Regions from separate parts of the Homo sapiens genome. Here regions 2 and 3 are each linked to region 1. Evidence: fine-mapped expression QTL. A gene starts in region 1. Each other region holds a variant in brackets. All regions are shown on one strand. Distances are between the middles of the regions. Region 1 holds the start of ADAP1 (ArfGAP with dual PH domains 1). Region 2 overlaps ADAP1 (ArfGAP with dual PH domains 1). Region 3 overlaps CHLSN (cholesin).

Region 1 (10,008 bases):
CTGTGCCTGGCTCCTGTCAGTTCCCACAGCACCCGCCATCCGACCCTCTGTGCCTGGCTCCTGTCAGTTCCCACAGCACCCGCCATCTGCTCCTCTGTGCCTGGCTCCTGTCACTTCGCACAGTGTGTTCAAGCTTCGCCTGTGTCGTGGTGTGTTCACGGCTGAGTCGCACTCTGTGGTGGGCACAGACCACTCTTGGCTTATCCACCCATCAGCTGGTGGACGTGTGGGCTGTCTGCATTTGGGACTGTTCTGAGTAACGCTGGCTGGGCATGACGGCTCACGCCTGTAATCCCAGCACTTTGAGAGGCTGAGGCAGGTGGATCACCTGAAGCCAGGAGCTCAAGATCTGCCTGGGCAACGTAGCAAGATACAAAAAACCCCACAAAACTTAGCTGGGCATGGTGGCGCACACCTGTATTCCCAGCTACTCGGGAGGCTCAGGAGGGAGAATTGGCTTGAGCCTAAGAAGTTGAGGCTTCACTGAGCTATGATTGCACCACTGTACTCCAGCCTGGGTGACAGAGCAAGACCCTATCTTGAAAAAATAAATAATAAGGCTGGGCGCTCATGCCTGTAATCCCAGCATTTGGGGAGGCCGAGGCAGGCGGATCACGAAGTCAGGAGTTTGAGACCAGCCTGATCAACATGGTGAAACCCTCGTCTCTGTTAAAAATACACAAATCAGCCAGGCGTGGTGGCTCACACCTGTGATCCCAGCTACTCAGGAGGCTGAGGCAGGAGAATTGCTGGAACCCGGGAGCGGAGGTTGCAGTGAGCCGAGATCATGCCACTGCACTCCAGCCTGGGTGACAGAGCGAGACTCTATCTCAAAAGAAAAAAAAAAAAAAGAGAAAAGGAAAGATGCTGCTGAGAACACTCGTGTCCAGGTGCGTGTGGACGTGTTTTCTGCCGTCCTCGGGCGCATACCGGGGAGTGGGTTTCCAGGGTCCCACGGTAGCTCCATGCCAGCCCGTTTTCCAGGGCGGCTGCACCGTCTTACACCCACCAGCGCTGTGGGAGGGGCCAGCTTCCCCCATCCTCACCGGCACTGTCTGTCTGTAAATCCTAGCCTCCCTCCACCGGCCCCCCGCCAGGTCTTCACTGCATCCTGGTGTGATTGGCATTTCCCTGACGACTAATGGTGCTGAATATTTCCGGTGCCTGTCGGCGGCTGTGTGTCTTCCTTGGGGACGCATGTGTTCAGATTCTTTGCCCTTTTTTTAATTGGTTCACTTGCCTTTTTATTACTGAGTTGTATGGGTTCTTTATAAGTAACTGTTTCTTGAGGCTGCACCAATTTGGGTGTGAACTTTGTAAACACTACTGCCCGATGGTCGCTGCGGAAAGGGGCCAGGGCTGGTGGGGGGAGAGCACCTCCCGGGGTCCCGCGTCGGGTCTGGGCCTCCTCCCCATGCCAAGTGCGTGATTCCGGCCCCCGAGGACCCTGCTGGTCCCAGGCCTCAAGAGATGGCACCTGGGGAGACCTGGGCCGTGACTGGAGTGGTCAGGCCAACGCCAGCTGCCCAGCGGGGGAGGAAAGGATGGGGGATGGCAGGACCCCTGCCCGGGCGCAGTGCCCAGCTCCATACCTGCCACCAGCCCGTCGGTTATGGGGATGGCTCTCCACGACCCCCTTCTCCACTCCAGACCCCATCTCTGTTTGGAAAACCAAGCAAAAGATATGTTCAAATGCCCCAAAACCCAGTAAGCCAACCTGTGCACCCACCTCCATGGCATGACATCTTGGGGAGGCCCCTGAGGACTCCCTGCTTCCAAAGGGGTTTCCGGGTCTAGCCCCACTCCCAGAAAATTGTGCTGAGACCACCTCTGGTCCTGGGTGGTTCCCCCTCCCCTGCATTTCGGGGCGCAGTGGCTATTTCTGGGGAATCCCCGTGTCTCCTTTAAGCCCCTCCTGAGCAGAGCTCTTTAGGATCCGTATGCTGCTGAACTCCTACTCCAGGTGCCCGAGGGGTGGCAGGGCCCTCACAGCAGTCAGAAGGCCCAGGAGGGTCTGCGCAGGGCCAAAGGCACGTCGCAGAGGACAGGGTGGAGGCCACAGCCAGTGGGCTTCCCTGGAGGGGGCCGGCCACATGGGGGCCCAACATCACGACCCCCATCCCCACAGCTGAGGCAGGTAGAGCCAGGAGCTGCCCACCCCTGCGCTGAGCCTGGATGTTGAAGACCCCTGCTTGGCCTGCAGGGCGGCCTACTGAGCTCACGGCCATCGTGCCAGACGCTGTCCAAGCGCAGATAATTTGACTGAATTAGCCCCGGCCCCTGTGCGGGGTGGAGAGGGAAGTGAACCTCCACAACCTCCCCTCCCCTGAGGCAGCTCCTGGTTGAGCAAGCTCGGCTGACTGTTGGGCAAGATGGTCGCAGAGCAGGGCCCAGCCCGGCCTCAGTCCATTTGCCCCTTCCCTGGGGAGAGCCCCCTTCTGCCTGTGCTGAGAGGCTCACCCCGCAGCTGCAGGCCTGGGAGGAGCCAGCTTCCAATCAAAGTCGCCTGCTGGCCTACCACGCGCAGGCCCCGTGCTCAGGCGACGCTGGAGGAGCTCGCCCTGCTCTCGGGAGCCCCCTGCCCAGGGTCTGCTGTGTGGCCGAGTGGTCACAGGAGGCGGCTGCCTCTGGCTCTGGACTAGGGAGATGCTTGAGGAATGAGTGTCAGGGTCCCTGGTGCAGCCGTGCGGGTCAGTGACAAGGGGCAGGAGGCTCAGCAGAGCTTGTAGGCCACTGGGCATGAGCAGGAGCAGGCACGCCGCCTGTCCAGGCCCCTCGCCAGCCGCTGCTGGCCGGAACAGCCTTTGACCAGCACTGGTCTGGGTCTGGCCCACCCTGAGCTATGCTGTTACCTTCCGGATTCTTCCTGAGTCCTGGGCTCCCCTACTGCCCCGCCCAGCCCTGACCACAGCCAGTCAGGGCAGCAGGATTTCAGGACGGCTGTGCTCTCGGGTCCAGGCAGGTACTTGCGGATCTCGGCCGAGCAGCCTCCTCTTTGGAAGAATCCCCCTCAGCCCCGACATCTCTTAGATCTGAGGGGTTCACCCACCTCTGTCTCATCCTCACGCCCTCCTGCCCCCCGAGCAATGCCACAGTTCCCTTAGCGGGATGGAAGGACAGAGAAGGCAAGACACTCGCCTGCTGGAGCTGCCCCACGGAGGAGGCCCCGGAACAGCAGGCAGTAGATGGCCTTGGCTTGTGCCAGAAGCTCTGGCCTGTTGGGCACCGGCTCCCCTGAGGCCTCCCTGCTGCCTTTTCTATGCCTTGTATGATGGCCTCCCCGTCTTTGGGGACCTTGGGTAACGGCTATGTTAGGGTGTGTTGCTTTGTTATATTGTTTTATGTATATTCCAGTCCTGAGGTGTGTGGCCTCCAGCAAGGGATCGAACCTCCCCGTGCCTCAGTCTTCCCAGCTGAAAATGGGGCTTTAATAAGAAAATACATGTCGGCCGGTCGCGGTGGCTCACGCCCATAATACCAGCACTTTGGGAGGCCTAGGCAGGCGGATCACGAGGTCAGGAGATCGAGAGCATCCTGGCTAACACGGTGAAACCCCGTCTCTACTAAAAATACAAAAAAATTAGCCGGGCGTGGTGGCATGCACCTGTGTCCCAGCTGCTGGGGAGGCTGAGGCAGGAGAATGGTGTGAACCCGGGAGGCGGAGCTTGCAGTGAGCCGAGATCGCACCACTGCACTCCAGCCTGGGTGACAGAGCAAGACTCTGTCTCAAAAAAAAAAAAAAGAAAAAAGAAAATACACGTCAAGCCAGGCGTGGTGGCTCAGGCCTGTAATCCCAGCACTTTCAGAGGCTAAGGCAGGCAGATCACGTGAAGTCAGGTGTTCGAGACCAGCCTGGGCAACATGGTGAAACCCTGTCTCTACCAAAAAATAAAAATATACCTGGGCATGGTGGCACCCATTTGTGGTCCCAGCTACTCAGGAGGCTGAGGCAGGAGAATCACCTGACCCCAGGAAGCAGAGGTTGCAGTGAGCTAAGATCGTGCCACTGCACTCCAGCCTGGGCGATAGACCAAAACCCTGTCTCAAAAAAAAAAAAAAAAAAAGGAAAAAAAGAAAAGAAAAGAAAAGAAAATAGAAAATACAAGTCAGGCTATTTCTCCTAATACCTAGTGCTGAGCTGCTGCTATTAATGTTCGTCTGTCTTTATTAGGCGACATTCTCCAAGCTCATGCTGTGTGGTGGATTCCGAGCCTGGCACAGGGACCCAGAGATGAAAATGCCACCTGTCCCCACCCCAAAGCCTCCCGTCTGAGGGAGGAGAAAGACCCATGTGAACGGTTACAGGGAAAGAGCACGTGATGCCACAGGGCACAGATCCCAGAGACACAGACCAAAACGGGCTGCCGCGTTCTGCTTCAGGTAGACAGAGCTTAAGCAGCTCCATGATTCCACGTCAGCTGGAGCAGGGGGACAGGTGCCTTTGGTGGCACTCTGGTCAGTGCAGCCTCAGTGGAGGCCATTCCACATCCCATACCATTGCCCCAGCGATGCCACTTTGAGAGCAAATCCACACAAAACTCTTGCAAAGATGAGGTTGTGTAGACCATGATTCTGATGCATTCAAAACGCTCTAAATGCCCCTATGCCAGTGACTGGGTGAACAAGTCATGGTTCAGTTGAACTTTTTTTGAGTTTGTTTGTTTGGTTTTTTTTTTTTTTTTTTTTTTTTGAAACGGAGTTTCACTCTTGTTGCCCAGGCTGGAGTGCAATGGCGCAATCTCGGCTCGCTGCAACCTCTGCCTGCCAGGTTCATGCGATTCTCCTGCCTCAGCCTCCCAAGTAGCTGGGATTGCAGGCATGCGCCACCACGCCTGGCTAATTTCTTTGTATTTAGTAGAGACGGGGTTTCACCATGTTGCCCAGGCTGGTCTCAAACTCCTGAGCTCAAGTGATCCACCCGCCAGGGTCTCCCAAAGTGCTGGGATTACAGCCGTTAGCCAAAACCCTGTCTCGATAAATGAATAAATAAATGAAAGGCTACAGGCCTCAGACGTTCGTTCTGGAAGGTGCTGAGGAATTTGTTAACAGTGGTTGCCTGGAAGGCAGTGGGGAGAGGCTTTCCTTTTTCAGTCTGGTATGTTCCAGTTTGTTTTCAGCCGGGTGTACTGCATTAACCCTGCAAGAAGAAAATGGAAAGAATTTGAAAAGATGCTGGGGTGTGCAGAGGAAGGGCACGCGAGTCTGGGAAGAGGTGACATCAAAACCAGGTTTTTTGTTACCTGTCAGCCCCCATGTGAAGTCCCGGCGGGGCCCCTCAGCCTGCCTGAGTGGGAGGGGTGCCCAGAGGGTCCCATCTGTGGGTGGTGGGCGGCTGGGTGGGTCTCAGGGGGAGGCTCCGTCTGGGCCCTGTGTGGCCTCAGTGCCCTGGGACGCTGGCGTTTGTCACCTGCTGGCCGTCCCTCCCAGGCAGGGATGGTGTGAGCGCCCTGGTCCTGGTCCGTAGCACAGGACACGCACACCTGCCTTCCACGAGCACCCCCATGCCCATGGTCTTGGGGGGCTCGGCAGGTGCCCTCTGCGCCCCCCACAGTAGGTGTGCAGGCTCCGTCCCACCGCGCGCGGCGGCACGAGGGTCCCACCCAGGCCGGCCAGGTTTTGGGGCGGCCTCGCGCCCAGGCAGGTGGGACGCTGCGCGCGGATGGGGGGCGGGCGGCGGGCGATTTCCCAGCGGGTCCCCGGGGCGCGCGGGCTGGGGGCGCCGGAGCGGCCGAGGGAGGAGGCCACACGCTCGCCTGCACCGCTGGGGGCCGCCCGCGGGCCTTGCCGGCCAGAGCGCAGCGTGCGCCCCGGGCCCCGCGCCGGCACTCGCTCAGCGACCGCGGCGGAGACACGAGCGGCGGCGGCGGAGCCCAGAGGGCGGCGGGAATGCGGAACCGGCGCGCGGGCTGAGGCCGCCCGGGATGGCGCAGGGGCGGCGGCGGCGGGCGGCCTGCGCGGGGCCCTAGCGAGCCGGGCTGACGCTCCCGGCCCCGGCCCCGGCATCGGCATCGCGGGCGCATCGCGGCCATGGCCAAGGAGCGGCGCAGGGCGGTCCTGGAGCTGCTGCAGCGGCCGGGGAACGCGCGCTGCGCGGACTGCGGCGCCCCGGGTAGGTGTGGGCCGGGTGGGCGCGGGGCCGGGTGGGTCCGGGGTGGGCGCGGGGTGCCGGGCGGGTCCTGGGTGGGCCCCGGGGACCGGGCGGGGGAGCGCGGACGCCGCGGGGGTGGCGGCGCTGAACACCGGGCCGGATCGGCGCTCGGATGGGGCCCGGGCCCGGCTGCACCTGCGGGGACCCGGACGTCTTCCCGGGCCGGGCGCAGCGGGGGGGCCCCCCCCAGGACCCCCGGAAACCCCCCTGCCGCCGCCTCCCCTCCCCCGCCGGGCTGCGTGTCTGACGGTCACCGCGGACCGCCCGCCGCGTTGCGAAAGCTCGGGCTCCGCACAGAAAGAGGAAATCGGGGCTGGCTGCAGGGAGGGAACGGGCCGCCAGCCGGAGGTCTCTGCTGGGCTGTGGGGTCCGCCGGCTCCGGGGCCACCTCGCGGTGACGTCATGCCTCACGCCCTTCCCGCACCGGGGGTCCCTGGGTGTGAGCGGCGCCCCTGCCCCCGGCTCCCTGCACCTGGCTGCTCCGGGGCGGGCGCCAGGACAGGTGAGGCCTGGGAGAGGTGGGGCCGGACGCAGGTCCTGGTCCACCCGCCGCCCGCCCGTTCGTTCTCCCGGCCGGGCATCCCTGACTCGGTTCCCAGGTCTGTGGGATTTCAAGGCACTGGAGTCCAAAGGCGCGGAGTCCCTCCCTTCCAGGCCACTGGTCCTGTCATTGGCTGTGAACGGGGCCCAGTGCCCAGACCAGCCCTGCCCTGCTCGGGAGCTGTCAGCCCCAGGCCGGCTGCGCTGTGGAGAGAGGGCCCCGCCGGAGCAGTCCCGCCACCCCAGGCACACCAGGAATCTGGGGGCCAATAGTCTAAGCCCCTCGGAACAAACCTAAACTCACCGGCGGTGACTGAGGCCCCCAGGGAGGGAGCGGGGGAAGACCTTGCATTTGCCTCCAAGGCCCTGGTTCAATATGCAGCCTCTGGACACCCCGGAAAAAGGGGTGTCCCTGATTCCCTCTGGGATGGAGGGGTCTCTGCCAGCCCCAGGTCGTGGTGGCTGCTGTCCAGCTGCAGCTTGGCTGGAAAGGCCACATCAGGAGCTGGGGTGTCCCAGAGGGGAGATAGCGACAGGCTTTTCTGGAAAGACAGGCAGGACCCACGGCCTTTCCATGGTCTCCTGAGACAGGACGGCCACAGGGCCCGTGCAATGGTGCGGTGGGGGTGGCCCCCTGGGCTGGCTCACCCCAGACTCTCTCCCCACAGACCTTTATTTCCTCCTGTTCAGGAACGCTCCCCAGGAAAGCCAGTGGGAAAGGGCCTGGCCTGGGGTTGCTGTGGCCCACGGGGAGGGGAGCTGGGCTTGCCTCTGAACCTCTGCTCCCTGGCCACACAGCCTGGGAGCAGCTTCTCTGGACTCAGGGCCCCTCTCCAGCCACCCTCTGGGCCTCCCAGCCTGGCAGGAGGAAGAGGGGACTTCCTTGGCCTGCTGGGTCCTTCAGTGGTCCTCCCCTCCCAGTGGGTGCAGGTGTGCCCGGCCCACCTGCTAAGCTTCCAGCCTGGCCCACCCCAGAGCTGTTCTCTGCCGTCCCTATGCCCCACGCTGCCGGGTAGAGGGCCGCACCTCTGCCTTTTCAGAATCTGTCCATGACCTCAGTGACTTGTCTCCTCTGTCGGGTAGCGCCATGGAGGGGGGATGCTGTGAGGGGTCACTCTCATTTCACAGCCAGGGAGACTGATGCCTTGCAAAGGGAGCTGTCTTAGGGGACATGAGCCACACCCGGCCGCTCTGCTTGTCCCCGCTCCCCAGGGCTGTGGCCACAGGGTGGAACAGGCGGTGTCAGGAGGCAGGGGGCTGCCTAGCCCCCCATGACCCCATGGCACATCCTCGAGGGCTCTATGCTTCTTTGCTGATGCCAGCTGCTCTGGGGCCTCCTGTACCTGCTGTGGCCCAGCTGGGTGACAAGGAGCCACTCCAGTGTTGATGGGGGCTGGGGTGGCCGGCACGTTCTGCTGTCCTCAGAACACTGTCCTGTGCACTGGCTCACGGCTGGTGCAGACCTGGACAGCAGGACATCAGACAGTCCCAGACCACCTCTGAACGCCAGGCCTGGGGCTGCTGGGGTGGACTTGAGCAGGCCCCACCCACTGGCCGTGTGAGGGAAGCAGTCTTGGGGTCTCTGCGGCCCCCACAGAAGCTCCTTCCAAACTCTCCCCATGACCTGTCCCAATAGTGGGTTCCCCTGACCTTGAACAGGGGGCCTCGCCCGGCGGCCACCCAGAGAGCCTCTCATCACAGGCCTGGCAGGTGGGCGAGTTGGGGCGTGCCTGGACCCACTGTCCTGCAAGACCTGGGTGGGGGTCTCCATCCTGGGAGGGGGTTTGGGGGAGGGAGGGGTGCCTCCGTACATCCTTGGAGCTGCCTGCCAAATCGCAACAGAGGACAGGGACCGGGCGCGGTGGCTCACGCCTGTCATCCCAGTGCTTTGGGAGGCCGAGGCCGGAGGATCGCTTGAGGCCAGGAGTTGGAAGCTGCAGTGAGTCGTGATCACACTCCAGCCTAGGCCAGAGTGAGACCCTGTCTCAAAAAAAAGAAAAACACACATATTGTCCTCTTTGAGTCTCAGGCCATCTGATGCCCCGGAAGGACTGGGGTGTCTGAGCTCTTTTGTTCTTTTTTATTTTAAGGTCTCGCTCTGTCACCCAGGCTGGAGTGCAGTGGCACAATCTCAACTCACTGCAGCCTCTGCCTCCAGGGCTCAAGCAATCCTCCCACCTCAGCCTCCTGAGTAGCTGGGACTACAGGTCCATGCCACCATGCCCAGCTAATTTTTTTTTTTAAGACAGTCTCTCGATGTCACCCAGGCTACAGTGCAGTGGCACGATCTTTGCTCACTGCAACCTCCAACTCCCAGTTTCAGGAATTTGGCCGGCATGGGTGAGGGTGGGAAGAAGGCTGCTGAGTGTGGGCGGGGGCTGGGCAGACTCCCTTCACTCCCCAGGGCAGCGGCCCAACTAGGTTGGATATTTTTTTTTTTTTTTGAGACGGAGTCTCGCTCTGTCGCCCAGGCTGGACTGCAGTGGTGCGATCTCGGCTCACTGCAAGCTCCCCCTCCCAGGTTCACACCATTCTCCTGCCTCAGCCTCCCGAGTAGCTGGGACTACAGGCACCCGCCACCACGCCCGGCTAATTTTTGTATTTTTAGTAGAGATGGGGTTTCACCATGTTAGCCAGGATGGTCTCCGTCTCCTGACCTCGTGATCCACCCGCCTCGGCCTCCCAAAGTGCTGGGATTCCAGGCATGAGCCACCGCGCCTGGCCGGATTTTTTAAAAATAATAATTTACCTTCTCATCGTTTCGAGTGCACAGTTCCAGGGCCTTGAGCACGTTCACTCACCGTGCCACCGCCACCACCATCATCTCCAGAACCTCCTCATCTTCCCAAACTGAAGCTCTGTCCCCATTCAACAAGGGCTCCAGATTTCCTCTCCCCAGTCCGGGGCACCCACCCTTCTACTTTCTGTTCTTTTCTTGTTTTTTTTTTTTTTTTTTTTTTGAGACGGAGTCTTGCTCTGTTCCCAAGGCTGGAATGCAGTGGCGCCATTTCAGCTCACTGCAACCTCTGCCTCCTGGGTTCAAACGATTCTCCTGCCTCAGTCCCCTGAGTAGCTGGGATTACAGGCGCCTGCCACCACGCCCGGCTAATTTTTGTATTTTTGGTAGAGACAGGGTTTCGCCATGTTGGCCAGGCTGGTCTTGAACTCCTGACCTCAGGTCATCCTCCCAACTTGGCCTCCCAAATGGCTGGGATTACAGGCATGAGCCACCGTGCCTGGCCTCAACTTTCTGTCTCTATGAATCTTATGACTCCAGGGACCTTGTAGAAGTGAAACCATGCGGTATTCATTTTTTTTTT
Region 2 (10,008 bases), 24 kb after region 1:
GAGCAGGTGGATTACTTGAGGTCAAGAGTTCGAGGCCAGCCTGGCCAACATGATGAAACCCCATCTCCACTAAAAATACAAAAGTTAGCCGGGCATGGTGGTGCGTGCCTCGCTACTCGGGAGGCTAAGGCAGGAGAATCGCTTGAACCCGGGAGGCAGAGGTTGCAGCGAGCCGAGATCGTGCCATCATACTCCAGCCTGGGCAACAGACTATGTCTCAAAAAAAATTCTGCTCCCTCAGCCTCCCAAAGCGCTGGGATTACGGGCCTGAGCCACTGTGTCCAGCTTTGTTGGACCTTTTAAGGCAAACCAGACATCGAGACGTGGAATCCCTAGACAGGCCACATGCAGGGTGAAGCCACAGCGCCGCTGTCACACCTGCAAAGTTAGTGGCCGCCGGGCGCTGTCACCCCACGCAGGGTGCGTCGTCATCCGCGGCTACCATCCGTCCTTCGGGGGTGTGCAGCGCGTTGGGTGTGAGGCACCCCCTGCACTCAGATCCTATCTGAATTTCCCAATCTTGGCCCCATCACCCAGGAGGATTCGGGCCCACAGACTTCTCCCAGGGCAGCGGACACGAGGAAAGCAGGTGGACCCATCCTCACGAGTGCCGGGTGCCCTCCAGCCCGGGGCATGGGCTCCTGTGGGGCCGGCCTCTGCTGGAGGTTCCCGGCACCCGCGGGGCAGAGCAGGTGCATGCAGATCGGCTTCCTCAGATGCCGTGGGGTGTCTGGGGAGAGCCCCGTCTGCACCGGGCAGAGGGCGGGGGGGGAGCTGGGGTTAGGTGCCTGTGGGGCGCACGGAGCCTGGTGTACCCGGGGGTCTCCGCTGAAGCCCCCCCCACTGCATGGCCGGGGGCTCCTGACTCGAGGCTCCGTCCACCCTCCCTCCGGGGTCCCTGGGCTGAGCCTCCGTGAACGTCCGGCTTTCCCTTGCAGATCCCGACTGGGCCTCCTACACTCTGGGCGTCTTCATCTGCCTGAGCTGCTCGGGAATCCACCGGAATATCCCCCAGGTCAGCAAGGTGAAGTCCGTCCGCCTGGACGCCTGGGAGGAGGCCCAAGTGGAGGTACGGAGGGGGAGGGGCGGGGGGACCCGCGCAGTCCCCGGGTGGCCTCAGCCCGGGCCTCTGGAGCCAGAGATGCCGGGCGGCCTGGCTGTGGCCCCTGGAGCCTTGGGCTACTCTGGGGGCCTGGCTGGCTGGACCCGAGGACCCCGCCCCCTCTCCAGCGGCTCCGCCTGTGTGGCTGCTCCACCCACCCCGTGCCGGGTCCAACCTCTCTGTGAGCAGCTCCAGGTGTGTGTGGTGGGCCAGGGAGCGAAGGCGGGTCGCCGATTCCCGTGCCCTGGGAGCTCCGGAGTGCTCCCCTCAAATCCCCACACCTGGAGCACTGGGCTCAGGGTAAAAGAGACCCTGTCTCTAAGGAAACAGAATGCAGCGTCCCAGGCCGCGCGGCACGACCCAGAGTCAGGGTCGCATTTACACGGCAGTCCACGTGCACCCCGGCCCGCTGCCGTGTAGGGCACCATTACCTGTCCCCTGGGCGGCCTCTGAGGTGACACAGCCACTGCCCACCTCTCACCCATGCATCTGATGAGGCTTCACGGAGCACTTGGCATGGCCAGGCAGGGACACCAGCCACAGATGCTTCGTGGGGCCCTAGAGACGCCCCTATGGGGAGGGAGACGGGTGTGAGCCAACCAGGAAGCCCTGGCGTGCAGGGAGGGGCCACGCATGCTGGAGGCGGCAGGAAGGGCCCCGTAGGGAGACCCCGAGGGAGGTGGAGAAGGAACAAGACCCCGGCTGGGGGCTGCAGGTCGGATGGAGCGTGGGGCCTGAAGACCCGGTGGGAGGGTCACCCCAGCCCCACTCGTGGGACTTGGGGTCTGGAAGCCATTGATCTTCCTGACTGCTGTGAGTGGGACCGAAGGGCCGCATGGAGGTGAGAGTGGTGGTCTGGGGGCTGCTGTGGGGATGGGGAGGGTCGTAGAGGCTGGTGGCCTCCTGTACATGTCTCTCCCCTCTCCAGCACCATTGACCCTGGGCCCCCCCTCTCCAACACCACTGACTCTGGCACCCCCTCTCCAGGACCACTGATCCCAGCCCCTGGTTCTCCAGCACCACTGACCCCGGCTCCCGGCTCTCCAGCACCACTGACCCCAGTCCCCGGCTCTCCAGCACCACTGACCCCGGTCCCCGGCTCTGCACCACCACTGACCCCGGCCCCCGGCTCTCCAGCACCACTGACCCCGGCCCCCGGCTCTCCAGCACCACTGACCCCGGTCCCCGGCTCTGCACCACCACTGACCCCGGCCCCCGGCTCTCCAGCACCACTGACCCCGGCTCCCGGCTCTCCAGCACCACTGACCCCAGTCCCCGGCTCTCCAGCACCACTGACCCCGGTCCCCGGCTCTGCACCACCACTGACCCCGGCCCCCGGCTCTCCAGCACCACTGACCCCGGCCCCCGGCTCTCCAGCACCACTGACCCCGGTCCCCGGCTCTGCACCACCACTGACCCCGGCCCCCGGCTCTCCAGCACCACTGACCCCGGTCCCCGGCTCTCCAGCACCACTGACCCCGGTCCCCGGCTCTGCACCACCACTGACCCCGGTCCCCGGCTCTGCACCACCACTGACCCCGGCCCCCGGCTCTCCAGCACCACTGACCCCGGTCCCCGGCTCTCCAGCACCACTGACCCCGGTCCCCGGCTCTGCACCACCACTGACCCCGGCCCCCGGCTCTCCAGCACCACTGACCCCGGCCCCCGGCTCTCCAGCACCACTGACCCCGGCCCCCGGCTCTCCAGCACCACTGACCCCGGTCCCCGGCTCTCCAGCACCACTGACCCCGGTCCCCGGCTCTGCACCACCACTGACCCCGGCCCCCGGCTCTCCAGCACCACTGACCCCGGCCCCCGGCCCCCGGCTCTCCAGCACCACTGACCCCGGCCCCCGGCTCTCCAGCACCACTGACCCCTGCCCCTGGTTGGGAGTAGCTCATTTGCTTCTAACAGGCAGCCTTGGTGCATGGGTCACACCTGGAGGCTTGTTAGAAATCACAGCTGGGATCCCAGTGCCTCGACCAGGTGTGGGGGTGGTGCCTGTAATCCCAGCCACTCAGGAGGCTGAGGCAGGAGGATTGTTTGAGCCCAGGAATTCTTTTTTTTTTTTGAGACGGAGTCTGGCTTCGTCGCCCAGGCTGGAGTGCAGTAGCATGATCTCGGCTCACTGCAAGCTCCACCTCCCGGGCTCAAGCAATTCTCCTGCCTCAGCCTCCCGAGTGGCTGGGATTGCAGGTGCACGCCACCACGCCCGGCTAATTTTCGTATTTTTAGTAGAGAAGGGTTTCACCATGTTGGCAAGGCTGGTCTTGAACTCCTGACCGCAGGTGATCCACCCACCTCAGCCTCCCGAAGTGCTGGGATGACAGGCGTGAGCCACCATGCCTGGCTGAGCCAAGGAATTCGAGGCTGCAGTGAGTTGTGATTGCACCTTTGTGCTCCAGCCTGGGAGACAGAAAAAGACCCAAGGACAGCAGAGTCCCTGACCCACCCAGGGCGACCCCAAATCAGCTTCTGCACTTAATGCCGTGATCCCCCACACCCTGAGTTGAGGGCGTCCCTGCGAATCCCCTCAGGACCCCGGCCCACCTTGGGCTCACCGCCTTCGACCCACCTTCACTGACCTGGGTGGGGGACACTGGGATGTGATATCCGTCCCTTCGCCCTTCGACCCACCTTCACTGACCCAGGGGGGGACACTGGGATGTGACATCCATCCCTTCGCCAGGCTGTGGGCTTGTCTGAGCCTCCGTTTCCTTCCCTAAAAAATGGGCAGGGTGGCCCCTGGACCATCCCCCTCCCCGGACAACAGGGGACCAATGTCAGAAAGATGATGGGACGGGTGTCCCGTCTCCAAGTTGCTCTGCCATCACTCCTGGAGGAAACAGCCCTGAGTCCCTGGAGGGCCTCCAGGGGCACAGACTCCTTGGCTCGGGGAGAAGACGTGGCTATTGTCCCCATAATTCCAGGGCAAACGGGGCAAGGGCCCAGGGGTGGGGCGTTCACTGTTGTTGGAAAAACCCTAAATGTAATCAGCGGGAGAGGACAGGGGCCAACTTGGTGCTGTCCTGATCTGCCTGGGGTGATGGCCGGAGAGGAAGGCTGGAGAGGAAGGCTGGGGAGGGCCCACCGTGGGTATTACCAAGAAACCCCTGATTCCTGCCGCAGAGGTCTGGTGCGATGGGGCCTTTGGGAGAGCACTGAGCTGGGGGCCACAAGGAGATTCCATCCCCATTCTGTTGTCTGCACGTTCACTGGTGCGATAAAAACCAAAGATGAATCTCAGGCAGGCCTGGGGGCTTGTCTCCTGAGAGCACCTGCACCCCGGCCCCCAGGCAGGGCTGGGTCTCAGCCCGGCTTCTTGCTGGGGACTCTGTGGGGCGGGAGCTGCACTGGGCCCCCCCTGGCTCCCTGCACTCAGGCCCCTTGGCCATTCCTGGGCTGGTGGTCAGCGGGGACATCCGGGGGCTAAG[C/G]CTGCTCCCACCCCTAAGGGAGAAACGGGCCTGAGGTGGCCGTTGCTGAGGACCGGACCGAGGTTGAAGGGCCAGGAACCAAAGATTCTTCTCTTCTTTCCTTTTCTTCACATTTTATGTTTTTTTTTTTTTTTCTCCCTACTTTCTATTCCTTGATAATACCTTTTAAAACAACTGCTTCCTAGAGATGCCGTTCACAGCCATACATTTCACCGTGTAAAGGGCACAGTTGAAGGTTTTTTAGTAAATTCAGAGTTGTGCAACCTTCGCTGAAGCCAATATTAGGACATTTTCATCACCCCAGAAAGGAAGTCCGTGCCTTTTGGCTCTTACCCCCGCCCAGCCCAAAGCAGCTGCAAATCCACTTTCTCTCTGTGTAGATTTGTGGGTTCTGGACTTTTAAAAACGGGATCGCACGGCGTGTGAGCTTCGGCGTCCGACTCCTTTCCCGCGGTGCCAGGTCCCCGAGGCCCATCACGCTGCAGCCTGTGTGACAGCTTCGTTCCTTTCAAGGCCGGAGAACATGCCTTGTGTGGATGGAACACGTTTGCTTTATTCATTCACCCTCTGATGGACACGTGGGTCGTCTCTACCTTATTTAATGTATTTCGACAATTTAGTGACACATTCAGCAGTTTCCAAGGACAGTCACAGAAGGGAGCTGTCTCCTTCCCTGTCTCCCACCTTTGAGCACCGTCCCCACCCTGGCCAGGCAGCCAGGGGTCTGTGTGGGCCTCGCTCCCTCCCTCCCTCCTTCCTTCCCTCCTGTCTTCCTTTCTTCCGTCCCTCCCTCTGTCTCTCCGTCCCTCCGTCCTTCCTTCCGTCCTTCCTTCCCTCCTGCCTTCCTTTCTTCCCTCCCTCCCTCCCTCAGTCCCTCCGTCCCTCCCTACCCTCCTTCCTTCCTTCCTTTCTCTTTTTTTTTTTTTTTGAGACACAGTCTGACTCTGTCGCCCAGGCTGGAATGCAGTGGCACTATCATAGCTCACTAAAGCCTTGAACTTTCAGGCTCAAGTGATCCTCTTGCCTCAGCCTCCCAAGGAGTAGCTAGGACCACAGGCATACACCACCGTGCCTGGCTACTTTTTTTTTTTTAGAGACAGTCTCACTGTCTCCCAGGCTGGAGTACAGTGGTGTGATCTCACCTCACTGCAACCTCCACCTCCCACATTCAAGCGATTCTCCTGCTTCAGCCTCCCGAGTAGCTGGGATCACAGGTGTGTGCCACCATGCCCAGCTAATTTTTGTATTTTTAATAGAGACGGGGTTTTGCCATGTTGGCCAGGCTGGCCTTGAACTCTTGGCCTCAGGTGATCCATCCCCCTCGGCCTCCCAAAGTTCTGGGATTACAGACGTGAGCCACCGCGCCAGCCCTGGCTAATTAAAAAAAAAAATTTTGTAGTGATGGGGTCTTGCTATGTTGGCCAGGCTGGTCTCAAACTCCTGACCTCGTGATCCGCCCGCCTTGGCCTCCCAAAGTGCTGGGATTACAGGTGTGAGCCACCGCGCCCGGCCCTGTGTTTTCTTGCCTGTGAACTCTCTTCACACCTTTGCCTGCCTTTCTGCTGCAATGTTAGCTGTTTTCATCTTCTAGGGGTTGCTGGTATGTTAGAGAAATTAATCTGAGATACCAAAAACATTTTTTTCTAGGTTGTCTTTCGAATTTGCTCATGGTGGTTTTTGCCGTGGAAATTTTTACTTCGACATAGTCAAAGTGGTCAGCGTTTTATTTTGTGGTTTTAGGGTCTATAGCATACATAAATAGGCCTTCTCTGCCTGAGGGTTTTTTTTTTTTTTTTTTTTTTTTTTGAGACAGTCTTGCTCTGTCACCCAGGCTGGAGGGCAGTGGCTCAATCACAGCTCAGTGCAGCCTCAAGCTCCTGGGCTCAAACGATCCTCTCACCTCAGCCTCCTGAGTAGATGGAACTACAGACGTGCACCACCACGCCTGGCTAATTTTTGTATTTTTTGTAGAGACGGGGGTCTCACTATGTTGCCCAGGCTGGTCTTGAACTCCTGGCCTCAAGTGATCCTCCCGCCTCAGTCTCCCAAGCGCTGGGATTACAGGCTTCAGCCACCACACCCAACCCTGAAGGTTATTTTTTAATAACAGCTTTGTTGAGGTATAATCCACATACAATTCACTCCCGTAAAGCGTACAGTTCAGTAGTTTTAGTGAAGCCACAGGGCTGCACGACCATCACCACTGTCTAACTTCAGGACATTTTAACGTCCCAACACAGCCGGTACTCACCACCCCTCCCATCACCACCGCCCCAGCCGTTACTGAATGTAGACAGAGCTGCTTTGTGTCTCTGTGGATTTGCTTGTTCTGAACATTTCAAACAGATGGAATCATGCAATACGTGGTCTTGTTTTTTTTTTTTTTTTTTTTTGAGACAGGGTGTCACTATGTTGCTCAAGCTGGTCCCGAACTCCCAGGCTCAAGCGATCCTCCCACCTCAGCCTCCCAAAGTGCTGGGATCACAGGTGTGAGCCACCACGTGCGGCCGATTCGTGGTGTTTTGTGTCTGGTTTCCTCCATGGGCACCGTGTGTCCAAGGATCGCCTGGGTTGTAGCGTGTGTCAGAATTGTGTTGCTCTTTTTTTTTTTTTTTTGAGATGGAGTCTCGCTCTGTCAGCCACGCTGGAGTGCTGTGGCACGATCTCTGCTCACTGCAACCTCTGCCTCCCGGGTTCAAGCGATTCTCCTGCCTCAGCCTCCCGAGTAGCTGGGATTACGGGCGTGCACCACCACGCCCGGCTAATTTTTGTATTTTCAGTAGAGACGGGGTCTCACCGTGTTGCCCAGGCTGGTCTTGAACTCCTGACCTCGTGATCTGCCCACCTCTGCCTCCTGAAGTGCTGGGATGACAGGCGTGAGCCCCCGCGCCCGGCCGGCATTCCTCTTTATGGCCGAGGAACCCTCCATGGTGTGGCTCGATCACATTTAGTTTATCTGTGGTTCCGTTCACGGAGCTGGGGCTTGTTCCCGTTCTCAGCTGTCACGAAGAATGTGCTGTGAACACTCATGTGCATGTCTCTGCGTCTTCGCGTCTCTTACGGTGCAGAGGAATCGCTGGACTCTATGGTAACTCTGTGTTTACCGTTTTGAGGAACTGCCAGACTGTTAGTCACCAGAGCCGGAGGTTCCCACCAGCAGCGTGCGGGGGCTCTGATCACTCCACATTCTCTCCAGCTCACTCCCCTGTGCCACTTTGACCTTGCCATCCTAGTGGGGAGAGGTGGTAGCTCATTGAGGTTTTCATCTGCGTTCCCCTGACAGCTAACAGTGTTGAGTGCCTTTGCGTGGCCGAGTGGCCATTTGTGCATCTTCTTTGGAGAAATGTCCGATCAAATCCTTCCCCATTTTTAGGCCGAGGTGGGACGATGGCTTGAGCCCAGGAGTTTGAGACCAGCCCGGGCAACAGAGTGGAACCCCACCTCCATTAAAACAAATTAAAAGTATACATATGCATGTAAAAGTAATTTTAAAAACCCTTACCCATTTTTATTTATTTTTTATTTTTACCTTCCTTTTTTTGCAGAGATAGGGTCTTGCTCTTTTTCCCAAGCTGGAGTGCAGTGGTGTAACCATAGCTCATAGCCTTGACCTCTTGGGCTCAAGGGATCCTCCCGCCTCGGCCTCCCAAAGTGCTGGGATTACAGGTGTGAGCCGCTGTGTCCAGTGGAGACATGGTCTTGTTCTGCCGCCCAGGCTGGAGTTCAGTGGTGCGACCATAGCCCACTGCGACCTCAAACTCCCAGGTTGAGGCCATCTTCCCACCTCGGCCTCCCTAGTAGCTGGGACTACAGGTGTGCGCCATCACACCTGGCTAATTTTTTTTTTTTTTTTTTTGAGAGACAGGGTCTCACTATGTTGCCCAGGCTGGTCTTGAACTCCTGGGCTCAAGGGGTCCTCCCACCTCAGCTTCCCAAAGTGCTGGGACTACAGATGTGAGCCCCTGTCCCCGGCTGGCCCTTGTTAATTTTTTCAACTTTAGAACCATTTCTAGGTAAAAAAATATAATAAATTCTGTTGCTGTTTTTTGGCAATTATTATAAAAAACATGTAGACTCCCATAAGGAGACATTTTTCTACCTCCCTGTGTCTCGGGTCGAGGCTCTCGTCCTCGGGAGCACACGCCAGTTTTCCCTTGGAGACCTGGGACATTTCTCATCCAGCCACTCAGGTGATTTGTCCTGTTGCTGTTGGTGACAGGATCTCTCCTTGTATTTGAGTTTTCTATGGAAAAGCCATTGGTTTTCGAATTTTAAATTGGTGCCAGCCTCTTGTTGCTTGTGATTTCTCCAGCTGCTCTTCTGGGCCCTCCCTGTTTACTGCCATGTGATCCTCGGAGCAGGGTGATGTCAGGGGACTTCAGTCTGGCTGGGCCTGGCTGCGGCCTCAGGCGAGTGGTGTTCAGGAGCTTGAAGGTGCAAACAGCAGCTGCCTTGGGGGCTTACAGCATAGCAAGCAGAACCTCTCCCATGCCCTCGGGGCTGGCGTGGGGTGTGGCGGCCCCTCCTGCTGCTCAAGGCTCACCATACCTGGCTGGCGGCAGGGTCATTGCCAGCGTCCACCCTCAGGGCCTTTGCGCCTGCCAGGAGCACAGTGTGCGTGACAGCCTCCTGGAGCACGAGCCTCCTGGAACGACAGCCTCCTGCAGCACCTCCCCTCCTTCACGGCGCCGTTTCCTTCTCCCTCAGCCTGTTTCGTAAACATGTTCTGGGTCCCTGCAGTGTGTCCCTGCAGAGTCCCCTCAGAGACTCTGTCCTAGCCACATCTGGGTCTCTCGCTCACCAGCCCATCTCCAGGCCCCCGTGTCTGGCGCCTGTTGGCTCTTTGCTAAATGTGAGCTGGGGAGCTGGGTGAACGAGGAAGCCCTCGCTCTCTGGGGCAGAGATGGGGGTCACAGGATGCAGCCAGCTCTCTCCCACGGGACACCCGGTGTGGGTGGACTTGGGGGTTGAAACGGTGGGGCAAACCTCAGACCCATCCTCAAAAGGGGCCTGGCCCCTGGGCCCCCTTTGCCGGGACCCCGTCGTTAGGGACGCTGGCTCCTTCCCTGTCCCAGGGGAGGGTCGATCACTCAGAAATGGTGTCCCTGGGGCAGGAGGAGGTGGCGTTCCCGTCCTGGTGCTGGTGGAGCCCTCAGAGCCTTGGGTCTGCGGGTCACTGTGGTGACGGCCCCAAGGGCAGCTGGCACCTCCTAGGCTGCCCCTGGGACCCCAGGCCTCTGACCCGGCCCCTCCTCTCTTGCAGTTCATGGCCTCCCACGGGAACGACGCCGCGAGAGCCAGGTTTGAGTCCAAAGTACCCTCCTTCTACTACCGGCCCACGCCCTCCGACTGCCAGTGAGTACAAAGGGGCCTTGTCAGGGCCATGGTCAAGTGCTGGGTGGCTCCGAGATGGCCCCGGGAGGACCCGGCAGGGTGGGGAGTTGGGTGCCGCCCACAGGGTCGGGGAGAAGC
Region 3 (10,008 bases), 140 kb before region 1:
GAGATGGGTAAAGTGCTCAGAAAGGGTTTTGTTTTGTTTTTTTTTTTAACCACAAGAAGCCCCTGTGGAGGCCGGGAGGCAGGGAGGCAGAGGGGACAGTGAGGGGCTCCGGCTGGGGACATTTCACAGACGGCCCCTCCCCCAGCCCCCACTTTGTTTCCGCTAGAGCTGGGTCAGCTGACTCACCACCTGCCAGAGAGCCAGGAAGGCAGGGGCTGGTCATGTCTGGAGCAAAGGCCTCCAGCCATGGCTTCTTGAGGGCGCACGGCCCAGGCTCCCCAGCTGACGCCGCTTGGTGAGGTGGAGGCTTTTCCTCCCCAGGCTCAGACAGAAGCTCCTGCCGCGGAGATGGGCCGCACGCCTCAGAGCTCAGACCTGTCCCGGGTCTGTGCAGCCTGCGTGTGGCCTGCACCCACAGGTGTGGCTTTGCCTGCCTCTGGTGTCCACTCTCTCCCAGAGAATTGCTCACCAGCCGGACCTGAAGAGCGAGAGTGGCCTGAACACGGCACCCAGCCTCTGTCGGCTCCTGTGGGCTGGCAGCAGCTTCAGGAGGCCTGAGAAGAGGCCTAGTGCCAGCAAACGAGACATGGGGCTCCACTGAGGGCTCATACGGGGCAGGGTGCAGTGGTGGCCGGCTGGACAGGAGAACGCACCTGCTTGAAAAAGGCAAGTGGCATGTATAGCATTTCCACTCAGCACCCTCCACCTGGCAACCTTCATGTAACCCAGAACACAGGCTCTCCCTCCCATTTGGCTTGCGGTGCACAGAACGGGGACGGGGGCTCAGATGTTCCTCTTAAATGAGAAGTGGATTATCCAGTTGTCCATACCCAGGTTCCATAGCTCAGATTGGAACTCCGAACCCACCCTCAGGTGCATCTGCCGCACGGTATTACTCAGGGTTTGCCGTGGTTGAGTCCCCGCCGTCAGGTGCGTCTGCTGCACCGTGGCCTGAATGACGTACCCTTGTCCTCTGGAGTTCTGAGCAAACCGCCTAGTGAGACGTGTCTGCGAACAGCACACAGCAAACGAGACAACAGCTTGTGTCCTCACCTGGCCACATCTGTGCACAGGTCAGACGGCAACGCCCAGGCAGCCTGACCCAGCCCTGGCAACCAAGCTCTGCAGGAGGCGGAGCTGGCATCTCCACTTTCTGAGGGAGTCCAGAGAGACTCAGTCAGTTCAGCTCTAATTTTGACTAACGCTCTTTTCCTCCATTTTTAATTTAAAAGTACATCCAAAGACACTCCAGGTAATGAGTTTCCCACCGTGGAGAAGAAAAGTAAAGCTCGACTTACCAGGCGGTGAGCGAGAAGAGAAAGCTTTAATTAGAAGCTTTACAATAAATGCTGGATGGCGTCTAGGATTCCAGATGGCGGAAACCCTTCCGCTCTTAGGAAATGTTTTGTGGCTGCTAACGAAGTGTGTGTGGAGTGTTGGGCTGGCGTCCCCGTGGCCCACCAGCACAGGGCGGCTGTTAGCCAGCACTGTCCGATGGTGGCCTGTGCTTCAGAGGGACAGAATTGGTCTGCAGAGACCAGCGAGGCTCCGGAAGGGGAGGCCGCTGCAGGAACGCGACAGCGAGGCTCCGGAAGGGGAGGCCGGCTGCAGGAACGCGACAGCGAGGCTCCGGAAGGGGAGGCCGGCTGCAGGAACGCGACAGCGAGGCTCCGGAAGGGGAGGCCGGCTGCAGGAACGCGACAGCGAGGCTCCGGAAGGGGAGGCCGCTGCAAGAACGTGACAGTGAGGCTCTGAAAAGGAAGGCCAGCTGCAGGAACACAGCCCGGCGCTTGAATGGGTACTGTGGTCTCAATGGCAGCTTTACTGAGATGTAATTTACATAGCAGAAATCCACTCTTCTGAAGTGTGTACCTCGGTGATTTTTAGTCACAGACTTGTGCAGCCATCGCCACAATCTAATTTTAGAACGTTTTCTTCACCCCCAGGGAAACTCCATTGCCTGTCAGCAGTGGCTCCCCGTCCCCCGCTCACCCCAGCCCCGGCAGCCGCTTCCCAGCCTTCTGTCCTGTGGACCTGTCTGCCCTGCACGTTTCACATTGGCGGACGCACGCAGTGGACATTGTGCTCGTGTCTGCTTTATCTCACCAAGCGTGGCAGCTCCACTCGTGTCTGCTTTATCTCACCGAGCGTGGCAGCTCCACTCGTGTCTGCTTTATCTCACTGAGCGTGGCAGCTCCACTCGTGTCTGCTTTATCTCACTGAGCGTGGCAGCTCCACTCGTGTCTGCTTTATCTCACCGAGCGTGGCGTCTCCACTCGTGTCTGCTTTATCTCCCTGACTGTGACTTTATCTTCCTGACTGTGGCATTTCCAGGTCCACCATGCTGTGGTGTGGTCCACGCTTTGTTCCTTTTCATGGCAGAGTAATATTCCACTGTTGGATAGATTGATTTCGTTTCTCCGTCTATTGGCTTATGGACATCTGGGTTGTTTCCACGTGTTGATTCTTGTGGACAGTGCTGCTGTGGACATTCACGAACAAATGCTTGCTTGGATGCATGTTTCCGGTTCTTTGAGGTTGATCCATGGGCGTGGAGTGGATAACGTTTGTCCTGTGCATTTGCTGTGCACCCACCCCACTTGCTGTGTGCATCCTGCCGCCACGGAGCCTCTTGGGGGTGACTCGCACAGTCCCGTCTTTTCCCTCTGCACACTCCAGTGTGGGCTTCCTAAGAGGCATTGTTGCCCATCTCGGGAAATGGACTTTGAGGCAGCACTTTTATCTCCCGGGGTATTCCATTCTTGTCGACTGACCCCATAAAATCCTTCACGACGCTCTTTTCCTTCTGGTAGAGCACCCATCTAGGATCCCTGTTGTGTCGAATTGTTACATCTCTTTCCTCCTTCTGAGTTTGGGATGATTGCTCTGCCTTTGTCTTTTGTCACATGGACATTTTTGATGCATCCTGGTTCCCCGTCCTCCCTTCCTGTTTATCTCACATTCCCTCCTGATGAGACTCAGGCTGTGCGTTCCTAGATGACAGCACGAGACGCACCCTTCTCAGGGTGTAGCATCTGGACCGGCCTCCTTGTTGGTGCTGCCCATGTGATCACCCAGCGAGGGGCTGTCCCGTCTCCACTGTGTGGTGACCTTTCCCCGAGCACTAATGAGCCATCCGTGGGGGACAGGTAGGCTCTGCAGTCCCCTGCACCTCACTGCCCCCTGAGATTCGCCCTCCATTTGTGACTCTTACCTGCCCCCGTCTCCCTCTGAAAGGTGCAGAGTGATGCTTTTCCAACTACTTTACCAGCCAGCACTTTATTAGAAACGAGACTCTTCCCATTCATGCATTCTTTCATTTTATTTAAATTATATTAGGTCTGTTTGTTGTTGGAGTAGACTTGCAGACTCCTGCTTTTCATGGTCTATCACGATTGTCTCTTCTTACTCATCTTACTGCTCACGTTGTCCCAGCTTTGGCGAGGACACCGTGTCCTTTGGGTGTCACCCGACGTGCTCTTGGAGCCTTTCTTGTCTCAACCAGAATCACCTGTCCCAGGCTCATCTTGTCTCTCCCTGCCCCGGCCCAAATCAGCCATTTCTCCCGGAGTCCTGGGCCCTTCTGGAGGGTGGCAGTGTTCGGGGCCAGGCCCTGTGCAGGTGGGCTGCAGAGATAGAGCTTGGAACATGTGAGCGTGTGTCTGTGAGTGTTCAAACGTACTCGCGTAGTCTGTGTGCTGCTTCTTACTTTCAATGTCTGGGTTAAGCCTTGTCCTCAGCCCTGACCCGTTCCCATGGGCTCCCCTCGCCTGCCCTGTCTCCCGCCTCTGCTGGGAGAGCCCCGGCTTCAGGAGCCTCCTCACATTGCCTCATGTGCCCAGTTCACGGGGTGTCTAGGACGGCTTTGGAATGGCTTCCCACCCCGCCACAGAAACACCCTCCTAAGAAGGTTTCT[T/C]TGTAGTTCTCTCCCCCACCCTGCCCCCCAAGACTGCAGGTGAGTGGGCGCGTGAGCATTAGTGAGCCCACCGCTGCCGCTTCTCACTGAGTGGGAGGTGCGGGGCCTGGGAAGGGCGGGTAAGCCGTGTCACTCTCGTGAGGTCAAGAGTTAATTGTTAAGCACAAAGAACGAGGAGGTCACGTTCAGTGCTAACACGGGGGTTTTTCCCATGCTTGCAGCTATGTACTTTTGAGCTCTTTCTGGGTTTAAAAAGCACTCATGTAGGAGAGTTGGGTTACCAGGAGACAGCAGAGCAGTTAAGACGCCTTGATTTTATCTCACCGTGGGCCTGCCAAAAACAATTACATTTGCCCTGGCTCCCAGGCAAGCGCTTGAGAAGGGCGTGTGTGGCTGCGCCGGCGGCACCCACGGAGTCCCTGCCCGGCCTGCTGGTCTCTGTCCTACAGCTCCCAGCTCTGGGATCTCAGGGTCAGGGACTCCAGGGCCCAGGGTCCAAGGCTGGCTCTACTGCGTGGGGACCTCAGTGTTGCACCTGCCCTTACCGCAGCCCGGTGGCTTGGCTGCTGGGTGCCTGTCGCTCGTGTGACTGGCCTCAGAGCAGTGCCGCCGCCAGCTTCACAGGTCAAGAGTCTGCTTCCGGCGGCTAGATGGCGGCGTGTCAGCTCTGTCTGCCCAGAGCCTTGGGCAAGTCCCCAGAAGAGACCTGGCGGAGAGGAGCGGCGTAGTGGGGCGGCGTGACGCTTCCACGCACTCAACAGCGGTGTCTGGTGCGGGCAGGATGGAAGCCGCGTCTGTGGCAGGGAGGGAAGGACGCCACAGTCAGCACTGTTCCCTGTGGTGGGTTGACGTGGAGGAATGAGTTGAGTCCCGTCCCTGATTGATGCCTGGGGCTCTGTTCAGACGCAGTTCCCACCCAGATCACCTTAAGGGAGCCCTCCCCGCTGCCGCTGCTGCCGTCCCTGCACTTCCCGCACAGCAGGCTTTAGAGGAGGTTGGGCTGGTGACCTTGGGTGACCCCTCGATGCCCATGGCCCCCAGCCCTGTATGATTTCTGCATGGCGTGCTTTTGCCAGTTAGACGCCAGGGGTTGCCGAGTGCTACAGAGCTTGTGGGCTTTGAGCCAGGAGAGCGTGGCTGAATTCCTGGCTGTGTCACCCACCATTTAAGGCTTCGAGCAGTGACTGACCCTTCTAGTGCCTCCTTGGTGTGGTGGGGACAGCGCTTACCCCACGGGGCTGCTGTGAGGGGTGGGGACCAGACCACGTTCCGTGTGGGTCTCCCCACGTCAGCTCGTCAGAACTGGAAGTCAGAAATGCTGGGTCTCTCGTCTGCGTATTTTAAAGCGTCTGCCCTTGCCCCTGTTGAAGCTATGTGAACGGGACTGTGTGTGGGGAATGCCTGACAGGTAGTTGGGTGCCTGGTGGTAGAGCACCCACCCCGCCTGCTTTCTGGGACTTGGATGGTTTTTCCCCATCAGCAACACTGAGGTCAAAAGGGGAGCTTCATTGAAGCATGCATCTTGTAAAGAGAGTGCCCGGGTGTCGGGGAGGGGGGTTTGGGGGCTGCTGCGTGACTGTCCTGGGTATTGTTGTAAAGACAGCGCCCAGGTGTGGGGGGTGGGGGTTTGGGGGGCTGCTGCCTGGCTGTCCTGGGCATTGAGCGAGTACATCCCTGGGGAGGAGGGCAAGTCTCGTCCCTGGGGCCTGGAAGGAGCTCCAGAGCACGGATGTCAGTGTGATGGCCATGTCCTTTTAGCTGGGGTGACTTGCAGGGCAGGCTCTGGAAGGGCAGAGGGAGGGGTGCGCCGGGCCTGAGTCGTGGCTCAAGCCACGCACGGTGTTCTGCAGGACTGTGCCACACGTGAGCCTGGCTTCTGGCTTGGCCACCCCACAGCAATCTCCACTTCCACGAGACCTGTTAGTGTGTGGGAGCCGCCCTGTTCCCAGGCTTCCCGGTGAGCCATTTATGAGGAAAGCAATCCTGATAGAAGTGGGCACAGAGGCCGCTCCTGCAGGCCACGGTCTGGGCAGCGCTCTGTTCCTGAGGAGCCCAGCACCACGGTGCTGGGGTCATGGAGAATACAGGCCCCACCTGCCTGAGAGACCCAGGCTTCCCACACCCACCGACACACAGCTTCATGTCCCACAGACGGGAGGAGAGAGGTTTTACTGGGCTCACTGTGGTTGTGTTATGTCCCACAGACAGGAGGAGAGAGAGTTTCCTGGGCTCATGTGTGGTTATGTTATGTCCCATGGACGGGAGGAGAGAGTTTCCTGGACTCACTGTGGTTGTGTTATGTCCCACAGACAGGAGGAGAGAGTTTCCTGGACTCAACATGGCTGCGTTCAGTCTTCATTGTGCCGCACCCGTTCACCCCCTGCTCTTTTGCAGATGTTTTCTTTAATTGGCCTTTTCCTTTCAATATGTTTGCATATCAAACTTTATGTTATCACAAATAAAAAACAGTATCATAGCTTTTAAACAGACCAGAACCGCAAACACAGGAAAAGTGAGGGGGTAGTACAGGTGGCTAGTTCCCTTCACCCACACATCCCGACGCCCTGCGCAGGTTTCTGTGAAGACGGAGAAGCAGGCACTGGTTCAGGTGCACCTTGTTAACATCAGGGACAGCTGCTGCCAGGTGGGTGAGGCGGGAAAGGAGGGGAGCAGCGCCAGGATCCAGCCCCGGTGATGGGAGAAGGAGCAGGAACCTTCCCGGCCGGCTGCTCCAGGAGCGCTTGGGTGCCGCAGAGCTCTTGGGCCTCGCACGCGGCCGAGAGCCTTCTAGAAAGGCAGCTTAGGTCGCACAGGCTGCTGGACAAGGCTGAGCCCTGCCTCCTACATTCATGGGAAGCTTGTCATGGCACCCAAGCATGACACAGAAGTGCCCCCACGGCATTTTGGACAGCCTGGAAATGCCAGGTTAGGTCCGGCTGGCCGGACTCAGAGGCTGGCCTTGTGAGAGTTTTCAGGGTGGCAGGGGAGGGCTGTGTTTTCTGTGAGGGGGGAGGGATTCTCCCGAGTGCCCCATGCCCACCCCACGTCCCACCCCACTTGGCAGACCCCCAAGACAGAGCCTCCGGAAGGATCCGCACATGACAGGTTTATTGACAAAGGCTGAACGTCACCAGCCTCATCAGCTTTTCTTACATTTTATGGGAAGGTTTTTACATCATCACCGCAGTTGTCCCCAGCTGTTATTTCTGTAGAAACAAATTCGTCAGCCACAGGTGCTGGAGTATTTCATTGTCCTGGCACCCGACTAACCCACACGGCAGCTCGCACGGTCCCAGTCCACATGAGTGCAATTGCCATGTTGATGTCAACAAGCAGTGACTGAACCACCCCGGAGCAGACGGCGGGCGCTCCACAGAGGGGCCTTCCTGCTGCTCCGGGCCGAGCGCTGCTGCTCCTCGTGGGCCTGGTGAGGCCGCACAGCGCCATTGCTGCCATCCTGGAAGATGGAGGACGCTCAGGCGTGCACCAGAGCAGCATGTTTTCCTTCTCCTCTTTAACTCGGCGGTGCGCTAGCTAGCTCAGACCGTGGGCACAGAGGACACACCGCGACGTCCAGCTCAGACCCACCAGCACCTTGCATCTCCAGCGTCAGTTCCCCCACGGTGGCAGATTTGCTTTAGGGTTCCTGTGTAACTGAGGCGCTTCACCCACAGTGGCCTCTCCGTGTGGCTTTCCTGGTCGACGGTGTCAGAAATGTTTCCTGCAGCGGCAGGCAGGTGCAGCGGCAGGCAGGGTTGGCGGGGAGGAGCTGGGTGACAGGCTGGTCACCGCTGGCCTTTGGACCCTGCGGGGCGAGCGCTTTGGGATTGTAGCAATTCTGTGTGAGGAGTGCAAGGTGACCAGTCGTGAGGTTTCCTAAGCAGCCCCAGGGTGACCAGGCAAGCGTGACCCTCGCGAGGCCCCGAGGAGCCAGAAGCCACATCTGACCGCAGTTTAGAGACATGACGTGGCCGTGCCTTGTGTCCACCCAGGTGTGTGCAGCTCCCGAGTCACACCCTGGCTGGGCCTATGCGGCCAAGGCTGTCTACACGGCACTGCTGAACCTCACATCCGACTGCTCGGTGCTGTCTGGAATGACGGCCTTCAGGGCAGCGTGACAGAAGCGGTTCAGGGCCGGCAAATTTGTTTTCTGCTCAATGTACAGCCTCAGCTTGTCCCTGAAGGTCTCCCCGAGAAAGCTGTAGATGAGGGGGTTTAGGCAGCTGTTGGAGAAGGCGGCGAGGTTGACAATGTGGCCCGTGAGGGGGTGGGCATGGCGGAAAGACTGCTTGCAGGGAGCGGCCCCAGGCTGCGTCCGCTGCAGGAGGTGCACGCTGATGAAGACGTTCTCCGGCAGCCAGCAGACGAAGAAGACCAGCACCACCGCGAGGATCATGCGGAGCGCCTTCTGCCGCCGGGGCCGCAGCCCACGGTGCCGGTGCGCCCTGACCAGCACCCGGACAATGAGGGAGTAGCACAGGCCGATGATGGCGAAGGGCACGATGAAGCCCAGCGTGACCTCGAGCCACTGCACCTCCCGGACATCCGCGAAACAGAAGCAGGCCTCGTCGGTGTGCTGCAGGTGCACGGCGGTGAAGGGCACCAGCGTGGCTGACACGGATGCCATCCAGATGAGGCCACAGCTCAGCCGGGCGTGGTGCTTGGTGCGGAACAGGCTGCAGCGCATGGCCCTGGCCAGGGCGATGTAGCGGTCGAAGCTCATCCAGGTGAGGAAGAAGACGCTGCTGTACATGTTGACCTGCAGGAAGAGCGACATGAAGGTGCACAGGACGGCGATGTCGTAGTACCGCTCGTGCAGGTTGAACACCTCAATGAGGGAGTCGGCCACCAGGATGAGGTCCGCCACCGCCAGGTTGATGAAGTACAGGTCGGGGATGGTCATCTTCTCGCGGAAGCTGATGTTCACCACCAGGATCAGGATGTTGCCCACAAAGCCGATGGGGAAGAGGAAGATGGTGTAGAGGCACGAGAGGAACAGGCCGATCACGTACTGCTGGTGCTCCGAGAGCTCACCTGTCCCATTGGCCAGGGCGGTGCCCAGGAGCGGGTGGGACAGGTTGAGCTCGGGGGAGGTGGTGTTGGGGGCCGCAGGCTGCGCGGTGCCTGGGTACATCTCCAGGCCCACGCCCCGGGCTTGGGAAGTCACATCCATGTCTCTGCACCGTGCAGCTTTCAAGATTTGCCGAAAGGCTCCCAGAGCTCTGTTTTAAATGGTGAATCCATCTTTAGAAAGAAGCGTGATTCTCCTTGAAGTGAGCCTGGCATTTGTCAGACAGGAAACTCCCCAGGAGGAGCACCTGTGGTGGTTTGGGTTGGGTTTGTTAACTGCAGAGAGTGGGAAGAACAGATGCTCCTCACACCGGCATGGTGCATCCGTGGAGGCGAGGGCCCTCCGCGTGCTCGTCCGGCGGGCGTCCCTGCGGGTGTCGGCCACCGTGCACAGTCCCGCGTGGAGCTGCTCACTCTCTGGGTACCTGGAGAAGCAACAGGAGAGGATGAAGTCTCATCGAGTGGCCCCAGCTTTGGGACAAGGCCTGGCTCCCCTGGCCGGGTGTCTGTAGAGTCTGGGTGTGTCAGGAGCACTGGGGAGGGCCAGAACCTCAGCTTTATGAGCTCGGGAGGTGGCTGTGGTTGAGCTGAGGTGGAAGAGTCGCCTGTGGGAAGTACATGGCCTTCTTTCCTGCAGGTCCCACGGCTGCTCAGCTGCAGCTGGAGGCTGGACGTGAGTCACTCCCACAGGCAGGGGTGTTTTTCCCTTTATAGCCACAGAGCAGGCCCAGGAAGCAATGAAGGTATGGGCACGGCCGCCCCAGGACAACGGCATTTGTGAGGAGAGGGGAAAATGCATTTCAGCAGCTGATGGAGAAGTAAGATAGGAAGGGAAAGCCAGTGTTTCTGAGAGAGAGAGAGTGGGTCCAGAAAGCTGGACATCAGAGCAGAATCTTCTCTTACGATAAAACAGAAGTTCAGCGGTTTCCTCATGCTAGTTCTGTGTTCTAGGTACCAAAAATAAACTTATTTTCGTAATATAGAGTGAAAGGGGTCATTGTTTTGGGAAATAATATGTACGT

Evidence for each region. PIP is the estimated chance that this variant, and not a neighbour inherited with it, causes the effect. A credible set is the group of variants that fine-mapping cannot tell apart.
Region 2: its variant is the best candidate, but not a certain one, in a credible set for the expression of ADAP1 in whole blood (INTERVAL, PIP 0.77).
Region 3: its variant is the best candidate, but not a certain one, in a credible set for the expression of ADAP1 in whole blood (INTERVAL, PIP 0.65).

The regions. Positions count from the first base shown.
Region 1 is chr7:950,497-960,504 of GRCh38, reverse strand. ADAP1 (ArfGAP with dual PH domains 1) reads left to right here and starts at 5,825. Exons shown (of 11, transcript NM_006869.4): 1 at 5,825-6,109. The coding sequence starts at 6,028. LOC124901569 (a long non-coding RNA gene) reads right to left here and starts at 5,651. Exons shown (of 2, transcript XR_007060178.1): 1 at 5,241-5,651; 2 at 5,015-5,137. RefSeq lists silencers at 2,218-2,277, 5,519-5,618, 5,474-5,629, 5,649-6,138, 6,429-6,638 and enhancers at 4,932-5,541, 6,764-7,375.
Region 2 is chr7:926,436-936,443 of GRCh38, reverse strand. ADAP1 (ArfGAP with dual PH domains 1) reads left to right here. Exons shown (of 11, transcript NM_006869.4): 2 at 939-1,069; 3 at 9,800-9,891. Among named protein-coding and RNA genes, the nearest start is that of ADAP1, 23 kb to the left of the region's middle. RefSeq lists enhancers at 7,478-7,567, 7,823-8,409. The variant C/G (reference allele first, on the strand shown) is at 4,537.
Region 3 is chr7:1,090,810-1,100,817 of GRCh38, reverse strand. All of the region lies in intron 2 of CHLSN (cholesin), which reads left to right. It overlaps GPER1 (G protein-coupled estrogen receptor 1), which reads right to left. Exons shown (of 2, transcript NM_001098201.3): 2 at 7,008-9,411. The coding sequence starts at 9,089. The coding sequence ends at 7,962. Among named protein-coding and RNA genes, the nearest start is that of GPER1, 7.7 kb to the right of the region's middle. RefSeq lists enhancers at 1-309, 4,616-5,325. The variant T/C (reference allele first, on the strand shown) is at 3,917.